Homo sapiens: one gene and its partners. The protein of the gene in region 2 purifies or fractionates together with the protein of the main gene of each other region. This does not show direct contact. Each region holds a gene or a part of one and is shown on either strand. Other genes may lie near its edges.

The links.
Region 1: the proteins of SSB (region 2) and SART3 purify together in Homo sapiens (affinity purification with mass spectrometry; 2 studies listed by BioGRID and IntAct, with this or other methods). This does not show direct contact.
Region 3: the proteins of SSB (region 2) and SUPT16H purify together in Homo sapiens (affinity purification with mass spectrometry; 2 studies listed by BioGRID and IntAct, with this or other methods). This does not show direct contact.

The regions. Positions count from the first base shown.
Region 1 is NC_000012.12:108,554,519-108,558,173, forward strand, and holds part of SART3 (spliceosome associated factor 3, U4/U6 recycling protein), read right to left. Parts: intron 1-3,655. UniProt on the Homo sapiens protein: U6 snRNP-binding protein that functions as a recycling factor of the splicing machinery. Promotes the initial reassembly of U4 and U6 snRNPs following their ejection from the spliceosome during its maturation.
Region 2 is NC_000002.12:169,805,257-169,808,911, reverse strand, and holds part of SSB (lupus La protein), read right to left. Parts: intron 3,439-3,655; coding exon 3,335-3,438; intron 3,248-3,334; coding exon 3,073-3,247; intron 2,128-3,072; coding exon 2,020-2,127; intron 1,942-2,019; coding exon 1,841-1,941; intron 431-1,840; coding exon 359-430; intron 53-358; coding exon 10-52; intron 1-9. UniProt on the Homo sapiens protein: Binds to the 3' poly(U) terminus of nascent RNA polymerase III transcripts, protecting them from exonuclease digestion and facilitating their folding and maturation.
Region 3 is NC_000014.9:21,370,398-21,374,052, reverse strand, and holds part of SUPT16H (FACT complex subunit SPT16), read left to right. Parts: intron 1-622; coding exon 623-715; intron 716-1,356; exon of another isoform or gene 1,357-1,584; intron 1,585-2,008; coding exon 2,009-2,179; intron 2,180-3,564; coding exon 3,565-3,655. UniProt on the Homo sapiens protein: Component of the FACT complex, a general chromatin factor that acts to reorganize nucleosomes. The FACT complex is involved in multiple processes that require DNA as a template such as mRNA elongation, DNA replication and DNA repair.

The DNA of each region.
Region 1 (3,655 bases), on a different chromosome or scaffold from region 2:
GAAATAGCATTTGATTAAAACATCCATTCATGAGTCAAAATTAAGAATTAGCAAACTAGGAATAGAAAGGCACTTCCTTAACCTGATTTTTAAAATCTGCAATAAATATATTTTAATAACATATTTATATATTTATTATATTGTTTATTATATATTTATATATTTATATTTAGTAAATTTAATAATACATTAAAATTCCTTTTAAAAAACACAAAAAACTTCCCAGTATTGCCTTCTATTTAACCCTGTACTGGAGGTCTGGGGTTTTAACAATGAGACAAGGAAAAGAAACAGATATAGAGAAAAGAATGAGAACTGTTAATTATGGTCAGATGATATCAATGTATAGTAAACCAAAACTCATCTACAAACAAATCATTTGGAAATAATAAACAAGATTAGCAAAGTGACAAGCAATAAGAGCAATGTATAAAAATCAATTATATACAAAGAGACAAATACTGTATGATTCCACTTATATGAAGTATCTAGTCAAATTCATAGAGACAGAAAACTACAATGGTAGTTATCAGGGGATTGGGAAGGAAGGAGAAGGAGAGCTGTTTAATTGGTAGAGTTGTATATATGCAAATGAAAACTTTGGAGATCTGCTTCACAACAATGTGACTATACTTAACACTACTGAACCATACACTTAAGAATAAGATAGCAAAGTTTACGTTATATGTTTTTTACAATAAAAAAATTACATTTCTATAAACCAGCAAGCTTTAAAATGTAATTTTAAATAGGATAGCATAAACATCAAGCACTATAAAGTACCTAGAAATACATCTAACAAAAGATGTGTGAGACCTCTATGGCAAAATGTTTTTAAACTTGATTGAAAGATATTAAAGACTTGGCCGGGGGCGGTGGCTCACACCTGTAATCCCAGCACTGTGGGAGGCCGAGGCAGGCAGATCACTTGAGTCCAGGAATTCAAGACCAGCCTGGGCAACAGGGCAAAACCCCGTCTCTACAAAAACTGTAAAAATTAGCTGAGTCTGGTGGCACATGCCTGTGGTCCCAGCTACTCGAAAGGCTGAGGTGAAAGGATCGCTTCAGCCCAGCAGGCGGAGGTTGCAGTGTGCTGAGATCATGCCACTGTACTCCAGCCTGGGAAACAGAGCAGGACCATGTCTCAAAAATAGAAAGAATATTCAATACCTAGACGAATGGAGTTATATGCATGTTCTGGGTTAGAATAATCATTATGGCAAAGACGTCAATTCTCCCCTAAATAATCCATAAATTCAATGCAATTCAAATAAAAAAACCAACAGGGTTTTTCACAGACCTTGACAAAATAATTCTAAAATTTATATGAAAGAGCCAAAACACCCTGCAAGGAAAGAAAAAAAGCAGGTAGGAGGATTTGTCTTACCAGATAGCAAGCCTTAGCAATAAGTTAATCAGTGGAATTGGCACAGGATAGACAAACTGAAGAGAGAGCCCAAAACAGACCCATGCAGTTGAAAAACACTATGGCTCAGGTGGCACTTGCTGTTTCAGCTAAAATAAATTCACAACCTATGACTATGACCCCCAGGTTGAAAAACAGTGACTTTGAGAAACTCTCTTTTTTTTTTTTTGAGTCAGGGTCTCACTCTTACCCAGGCTGGAGTGCCGTGGCAGTCACAAATCACTGCAGCCTCAAATTCCCAGGCTCAAGTGATCCTCCCGCCTCAGCCTCTTGAGTAGCTGCTACTACAAGCTCATGCCACCACACATAGCTAAATGTTTTAAATTTATTTTTTGTAAACACAGGGTCTCACCATCTTGCCCAGTCTGGTCTCAAACTCCTGGGCTCAAGGGATCATCCTGCCTCAGCCTCCCAAAATGCTAGGACTACAGGTGTGAGCCACTGCATCTGGTGAGAAACTCTTGTACATGATGTGAACTGCTTTGTATTTATCAAATTACATGCCAAAAGATAATAATCAATTACAGATAAGAACATGATCTCTAAGTTTTAAATCTTAAGACTTTTAGCAATGTTCTCCTGCTTATGATTCATAAAACCTGAGAAGCTGAACTCATCCGATGATCACACGATAGGCTGAAAAGCACTGGACCAGATCAGGACACAAGTGTTCTAATCCCCACTTGTTCTGTTTCCTCATCTGTACCATGAAAGAGCTGGGCTAAAGCTCTGGTTCTTAAATGGGCTATCATGACACACTGATGTTTCAAAATCACCTATCAAGTGTGTCACACAAAGTAACCGCAGTTTGGGATGTTTGAGAAGTGAAGTTTGAGAAGGATACACTTTCTTCATTAAAGAACATTCAAGGCTCTCCCCACCACATCACCAGTCTGAACTCAATAGAGTGTGCTTGCGGAGCACAAACAGGAGTGGGAGAGCACTTGCTAGTCAGTGTCACGAATATCTATGCATGCAAGTGCCCCTCACATGAACACCATGTGTGGATCAGCAGAAGAAAAAGGTATAAAAGTCGCTAAAGTCAAGAAGCTGACTTTTAAGGTGTGGCTTTTGGTGTAAACTTCTGATTTTTAGGGTAAAATGATGAAGATACTATATGTGGACAAGTACTCTGAAAGTACATATATTAAATACATACTGAAATGCACTTAAAAGAGCTATTTCCACATAGTTCAATCTATACTGATAAATGAGTACATATGCTGGTCTATTCTGGTCTTAGAACATCATTAATGACATAGTTTTTTTTTTTTTTTTTTTTTTTTTGAGGTGGAATCTTGCTCTGTCACCCAGGCTGGAGTGCAGTGGTGTGATCTCAGTTCACTGCAACCTCTGCCTCCCGGGTTCAGGCGATTCTCCTGCCTCAGCCTCCCGAGTAGCTGGGATTAACAACATAGATGCTTTAAAGGAAACTTAACCAATCACAAAATGATCTGCTAACTGATTTAACTCCCTAGCAATGTGAAAAATGTGTTATACCTAGCTGTACTAGAATGGGGGAGAAATAATAGAGAGGACTGATGGAAAGAAAACAACTGGTGCAATCAAAGGCAGGGAAGGGAGAATGGAGCAGCACCTATTATGCGCCAAACTGTGCCAGGCGCTTTACGCACATTGTGCCATGCCCCACAACAGTCCCATGAGGAAAGCACTATTACAACCTTCATTTTACTAACTGGGACACCCAAGACTCTGCGAGCTGAAATAACTTGTACAAGGCCTTTCCACTACTCAATGGAAGGCTTGGGTTCAGGGTTGCAAAGCCATAGTCTCCGTACTGCTGCACTGACAAATCTGCCGAAGCCACCATGAAGTGCCACTTTTAATTTCAGCGCACAAACACATATAATGGAAAATATTTGCTTTTGTTAGACAGATACCACAGCAAACTGCCAGCTACCATAAAATATAATCAAGGCCACGTGCAGTAGCTTGCGCCTGTGATCCGAGCACTTTGGGAGGCTGAGGCAGGAGCATCACTTCAGCTCAGGAATTCAGCACCTGCCTGGGCAACATAGTAAGAACCCATCTCTACAAAAAAAAAATATTTTTAATTAGCCAGGCATGGGGGTGCATGCCTGTAGTCCGAGATACTTTGGAGGATGAGCTGGGAGGATCACTTGAGCCTGGGAGGTCCTAGCTGCAGTGAGCCATGATCACACCACTACTCCAGCATGGGCAAGAGTGAGATGCTCTCAAAAAAAAAAA
Region 2 (3,655 bases):
TATACTTACCATTTCAGCATCTTCTTCTAACTTTTGTTTTGCTTCTTGCTCCCTACAAATAAAAATATAATTATAACATACTTCTATTTACTATATAAGAAAATTAAGTCCTAATAAAGTTAACCAATCATGATCACTAAACTTACTTAACCAAAGCCAGAAGTCCTTAGGTTTTTTTGATCGTCCAATGCTAGACTGCAATGCAATTTGGCCCTGAGATTGTCAAGGCAGCTTAAGATCTCAGTGTTTCACTAGCAAAGAGAAAGGTCTACTGCCACTATTTCAGAGCTCACCAGCTATATTTCTGTCAGAGCTTTAAGGAATTCAAATTATGTCGTGATTAGTTCAACATACTTACTGTTTAGCTCTTAATTTAGCTTCCACTTTATTTTGTTTTCTTTCTTCATTTTTTTTGGCAAAGTAATCGTCCCTAAAGAACACACAGTACAGAGGCTAAGTTCACGAGAACAAAGTTAAGACTGCAGATTATTTTGAATAACTTAAGACATGGCACAGCAATGAATGTTGCACACGCTTACTATCAACATAATCATCAACTAAAAATTCAAAATATGCCAAGGAATTTACTCTCTCATGTTTTTTTATATAACAGCTTTACTGAGGAAAAAATCCATGTGCCACAAAATTCACTCTTTTAAAGTGTACCTTGAATGTTTTTTAGTATATTCAGTTGTACAACCATCACTACTAATTTCAGAACATTTTCATGACCCCAAAAAGAAACCCCCTATCCATTAGCAATTTCATGTTGATTTCCATTTATCATTCATGTATAGGGAAAAAAGTGTATCAGAAGTCATGCAAATAATATTGCAGTTTTCTATAGTGTTAATTCCACAAAAGGAGAAAATTCTAAAATCCCCAAGATCCAACAATAACATATGAAAATCATGTTAAATAATTTTTGAGGATTTAACACTGATACTATGACCCATCACAGTGCATCTCTAAGTCAATCAAGTTTAGTATATACCATTTAGAAGACTAATGCACAGTCTTCTAAAGTAGGGAACTATGGCCCTACACCTAATTTTATCATGAAAATGCTCTGGTTCATCCCCATTTTTAGACACTTAGACAGACACACATTCACAAAGAATGTGACCCAAATCTCAAATCCTTTGTACTGTAAAAAAAAAAAAAAAAAAAAAAAGACATATAGGCTATGAAAAATAAGATGAAAACTGCATTGATATATTTTCCAAACACACAAAAGACCAAATTTTAATACCCAGCCTGATCAAAAGTTTTAGATGCAAAATCAGTATTAAAACATAACCTCCTTTAATAATGGCTAACAGTGGCTGGGCGCAGTGGCTCACGCCTGTAGTCCCAACACTTTGGGAGGCCAAGGCAGGCGGATGATCTGAAGTCAGGAGTTCAAGACCAGCCTGGCCAACATGGTGAAACTCCATCTCTACTAAAAATACAAAAATTAGGTGGACGAGGTGGCACGCGCCTGTAGTCCCAGCTACTCAGGAGGCTGAGGCAGGAGAATCGCTTGAACCCAGGAAGCAGAGGTTGCAGGGAGCCAAGATCACACCACTGCACTCCAGCCTGGGTGACAAGAGTGAAACTTGTCTCAAAAAAAAAAGAAAAAGAAAAAAAAATTGTTAACAGTGAAAAGGTACTAATGAACACTTTTCTTATAGTCTCAAAAGACTATAGTTCTCACTGAACAAATATCAAGCATTTCTCAAAGGTCATCTAAAGATACTAAGAATATTGGCCTTTCAGGGGATACTACTTCCATGCTCCTTACCCTAGTGTGTGTCCATATAAGTAAAAGGCCAGGAGAAACATCAGCAAAAAGACTTACTTGAAAAGTATTAGCAGGTCTGTTTCTTTGTACTTCTGGCCAGGGGTCTCTACAAATTTCTTAGCAGATTCAATGCTATCAAACACAACAAAAATTGATCCCTGTAAAAAGGAAGGAAAATATTTTTTTAAGTTATGTCCCATATATTTTAAAACTAGAAAAAGTCTGTATTATCATACCTTAAATGCTTTATGCAATGTTCTTCTCATCTGAATATTTAGTACTTGACCTTTATCTTCTAACCATTCTTTTATGTCATCAAGAGTTGCATCAGTTGGGAAGCCTTTCTGTGAAGAGTGGGAAGAAATGTACAAATAACAAATAATGACTTCTCAGATAAACAATTGGAGAGAATTTGATTCATTTTTTCTTGAAATGAACCCAGGATATACCTATCTATCTCTATTTCTCTTTGTTAATCACTTAACAGCCTTGTTTAGGAGCCACTACTCTCCAGTACAATAAAAGTGATTCATCTGGTATTTGCTTCAAAATAATTCAGTTGAAGCAGAAATAAAACAAGATGATTTGCATGTTCTGTTATTAACTACTAAAGCTGGTGATGGTACATTATTGAATCTATTTATATATGTATCTGAAATTTTCCGTAATAAAAAACTATTTAAAAATACACTAAAGAAAACTGCAATCAAGTTTAGCTGCTGATAAATAAGAACAGCTAATAGGCAATAGGTGCTTAGAATATGTCAAAGATTTCATCCAATGGTATATATATTTTTTTTCATTTAATTCTCACAACAGTTCTACAAGGTAGAAAATATCCACGTTTATGAAGATAAAACTTAGGACTAGGCATGGTGGCTCACACCTGTAATCCCAGCACTTTGGGAGGTCAAGGTGATTGGATCACTTGAGCCCAGGAGATTGACACCAGCCTGGGCAACACAGGAAGACCCGTCTCTACAAAAAATTTTTTGCCAGGCATGGTAGCATGCACCTGTAGTCCCAGCTACTCAGGAGGCTGAGGTGGGAGGATCACTTGAGCCCAGGAGGTCAAGACTGCAGTGGGCCATGATCACACCACTGCACTCCAACGTGAGCAACAGGATGAGACTGTCTCAAAACAAAACAAAACAAAAGAAACTTAGGTTAAGAATATTACGAAAGGACATACAGTAATTAGTGAGGCTGTGATTCCTGAGCCCTTATTCTTCCGTACTTTACTTTCTAAATAAATGTAAGATATTTAAATGCATTACAGGCCCACTTACAATATAAACAGATCTGTTTTTTACATCATTTTTATACTCATCAGTCACTTCAGGTAGGGGTTTGCTTGGAGACCTTCTGATTTTAGTTTTATCTTCACTGATTTCCATGAGTTCTGCCTTGGATTTGCTCAATGCTTCCACAATTACATTAAAGTCTGTTGTTAGACGGTTCAACCTGAAGAGTACATATAAAAACATAAGACTCAGCAGTAGCACTCATTGTAAACAGAAAACCTAAAGATTATTTTTAAAAGCTTGTTACCTGTTGAATTTTATCATTATCTCCAAAGGTACCCAGCCTTCATCCAGTTTTATCTGTTCCTTTAGAAACTTGTCCCGTGGCAAATTGAAGTCGCCAAAATAATACTGTGAGATAATTACAATGTATTTCAGAACACTGTATAATATGGACTCCAATCCTGACATTACTCTACAGTACCAAGTTCTGTTATTTAAAAATACATAAGTTACAAAAGGCAAAACACTTTCCCCAAATATACAATAATGTTTACAAATTAGCAAAAAGATAAAACTAAAATGTCAATTACTAAAATAGTGTAACAGATGTGTCAATAGACTAGAA
Region 3 (3,655 bases), on a different chromosome or scaffold from region 2:
TTTTGGAATATAAAAAATTAGTTTGGCCCAGGCATGGTGGCTTATGCCTGTAATTCCAGCACTTTGGGAGACCGAAGCAGGTGGATCACCTGAAGTTAGGAGTTCGAGACCAGCCTGACCCACATAGTGAAACCCTGTCTCTACTGAAAATAAAAAAATTAGCCAGGTGTGGTGGTGGGCACCTGTAATCCTAGCTACTGGGGAGGCTGAGGCAGGAGAATTGCTTGAACCCAGGAGGCGGAGGTTGCAGTGAGCCGAGATTGCACCATTGCATTCCAGCCTGGGCAACAAGAGTCAAACTCCATCTCAAAAATAAGTAATAAAATTTTAAAAAATAAAATATTTCTTTGAATTACACAGGACGTTTGTCACTGATCTGTGTTCCTGAACTATGAAACATAGATCTGGGGGCTAAGGAAAAATTTCTCTTGATATTTATCAACAATTAGCAAGTACTGTAAAAACAAAAAATAGAATAGCCGTAAGACTGCCAAACAGGCATGTACCTTAAACTTGAAATTTCTATCAGGAGAAAATTATGCCTGTCCTAGATAAATATTGAAGGCTGTATTCCTGTTTTGCTAGTGTGAAAAATTAAGTGATGATTACCCACTCTTTTCAGAAAGGAGAAGATGAGTATGCCAACGTTGATGCCATTGTTGTATCAGTGGGTGTTGATGAAGAAATTGTTTATGCCAAATCAACTGCCTTACAGGTGAGAGATTTACAGCAATTTTTAGCTCTTAGAGTTGTTGGATTATCTACTGCACTGTTCAGTATGGTAGCCACATTAAAACTTAAATTCCTGGCTGGCTGCGGTGGCTCATGCCTGTAATCCCAGCACTTTGGGAGGCCGAGGCAGGTGGATTGCTTGAGCCCAGGAGTTCAAGACCAGCCTGGACAACATGGCAAAACCCTGTCTTTACAAGAAATACAAAAAAATTAAGCAGATGTGGGGGTGTGCACCTGTAGTCCCAGCTACTCAGGAGGCTGAGATGGGAGGATGGCATGACCCCAGGAGGTAGAGGTTGCAGTAAGCCAAGATTGCACCATTGCACTCCAGCCTGGGCAACACAGTGAGACCCTGTCTCTTACTTTAAAAAATTTCAATTTCTCAGTCCCATCAGCTGTGTTTCTGGTACTCAGCAGTGGCTACCCCATATTGGACAGAGCAGATAAATGGTATTTTCACCATCACATAAAGTTCAATTGGATTTAGCAGTGATTTAAGACATAAGGAAAAAGAAGTATTAATATCAGTATGGATTTAGCTGCTATAACACAAAAACCTAAGTAACAGTGAGTTAAACAAAATATTCTTTTCCTTATGTATAGTCTTCAGGGACCCAGGCTTTTTCCAGTTCTCTGTTCTGCCACCCAAAGAACATAGCCCTCTTGCACGTGGTACAGAATGGCTTCTAGAACTCCAGGTGTTTCATCTACATTCCAAGCAAAAAGAGACAGAGAAGAAAACAGGAGGCCACCTTTTCTTTTTAAGAAGACTTGCTTGAAGCTCCACACACTACCATTTTTTACCTATTGGCCAAAATTTGATCCTAATGACCATACTTACCTGAAAGGAAGGTAAAATATCAGTTCTTTGAGAAGGAGAAATGAATAATTGGTAGGGAACTGGTAATTGAGGAGGTAATAACGCAGGGTTCTGTATCACTCTGTCCCTTGTTTTATGCATTTCTGTATCACTAAACATTGATATACTTCCTATAAACACAAATCGTTTAACTGATTTGATGGTTTTAATTATAGAAAGTTCAAGCATATAAACGTAGAGAAAATAATACATTGAACCCCATTGTCCTGTTCTAATAAATTGTCGACTCTTGGCCGATCTTGCTTAATTTGTATCCACTCCAGACTCCCCAGCCTGATTACCTTGGAGTTAATTTCAGACATGTTATTTTTGTCTATAAGTATTTCTGTATATCTATATGAGTCCATTAATTTTTGTATCTGTAAATACCGTTGTCACTGTTGTCTTTTTCCATAGACATGGCTCTTTGGTTATGAACTAACTGATACTATCATGGTCTTTTGTGATGACAAAATCATCTTTATGGCCAGCAAGAAAAAAGTGGAGTTCTTGAAACAGATTGCCAACACTAAGGGCAATGAGAATGCTAATGGAGCCCCTGCCATCACACTGCTAATACGAGAAAAGGTCAGGATTAATAAAGAATGTGTCATAAATGTGGAAGAATCTTCAAAAGGGATGAACAGAAATGCCTTATAGGAGTTTGAAAGAATGCGCAGGGGAAATTATAGGTGGCTGTGGTTGTAATTACAAAGTTCTGTCACGTCTTCATTGTTAGGAGGAAAAGAATTCAATAATCCTATCAGTTCTGCTGTAAAACAAATGAGCTATGAAATTCTGGTGAACACTGATTTTATGTCTCCATTCTTGAGGACACTGTTAGTTTGTTTTCATCTGTATGCCTTGATTAGAGCAAATAACCTTAAATATCCTTAAGGAAACTTAGATATACATCATTTCCAGTTTTTATCAAATGTGAATTTTTTTTGTCATACTGCCCACCTAACATGGGATGTTTTCTCAGAATATTGTTCACTTATGTGTTTGAGTTTCTTAACTGTTTCTGAAGAAAAAGGATAGTTGTATCAGACGTGGTGGCACACACCCGTAGTCCCAGCTGCTCAGGAGGCTGAGATGGGAGGATTGCTTGAGCCCAGGTGTTTGAGACCAGCCTGGGCAACGTGAGACCCCTTCTCTTAAAAAAAGGAATAGTCTGGTCAACTTACGGCAGCACTTTCACCTGAGTATATAAAAATATCTAAAGAAATGTTTTGCTCACTTTTGATATATTACAATCTTCCTTAAAGATGGGAAGGCATCTTACAGGTAGGCCAGGCATGGTGGCTCATGGCTGTAATCCCAATACTTTGAGAGGCCGAGGCGAGCACTTGAGCGCAGGAGTTCCAGATGAGCCTGGGCAACATGACAAAACCCCATCTCTACAAAAAATACAAAAATTATTCAGGAAGGCTGGGTGCAGTGGATCACTTGAGGTCTGGAGTTCAAGACCATCCTGGGCAAGATAACAAAACCCCATCTCTACTAAAAATATAAAAAATTAGCCGGGCATGTTGTCACACACCTGTAATCCCAGCTGCTCGGGAGGCTGAGGCATGAGAATCACTTGAACCCGGGAGGCTGAGGTTGCAGTGAGTGTAGATTGCGCCGCTGCACTCCAGCCTGGCAACAGAGCAAGTCTGTCTCAAAAAAAAAAAAAAATTTATCCAGGCATGGTGGTATGAACCTGTAGTCCCAGCTACTTGGGAGGCCGAGGCAGGAGGATTGCTTGAACTTGGGAGTTCGAGGTTGCAGTAAGCTGTGATCACACCACTGTGCTCTACCCTGGGGGTAGTAGAACAAGACCCTGTCTCTTTAAAAGTAAAAAGTAGGTGGGGATGGGAGGAGAATTAATTTTTTCCGTAGTTTAGAATATTATTCTACCTGTTACTGGTAAAACGTGTCTAATGAACTGGTAAAACATATGTGTCTTTTCTTCCCTATGACACTGACAGAATGAAAGTAATAAGAGTAGCTTTGACAAAATGATTGAAGCCATTAAAGAAAGCAAGAATGGCAAGAAGATTGGAGTGTTCAGCAAAGACA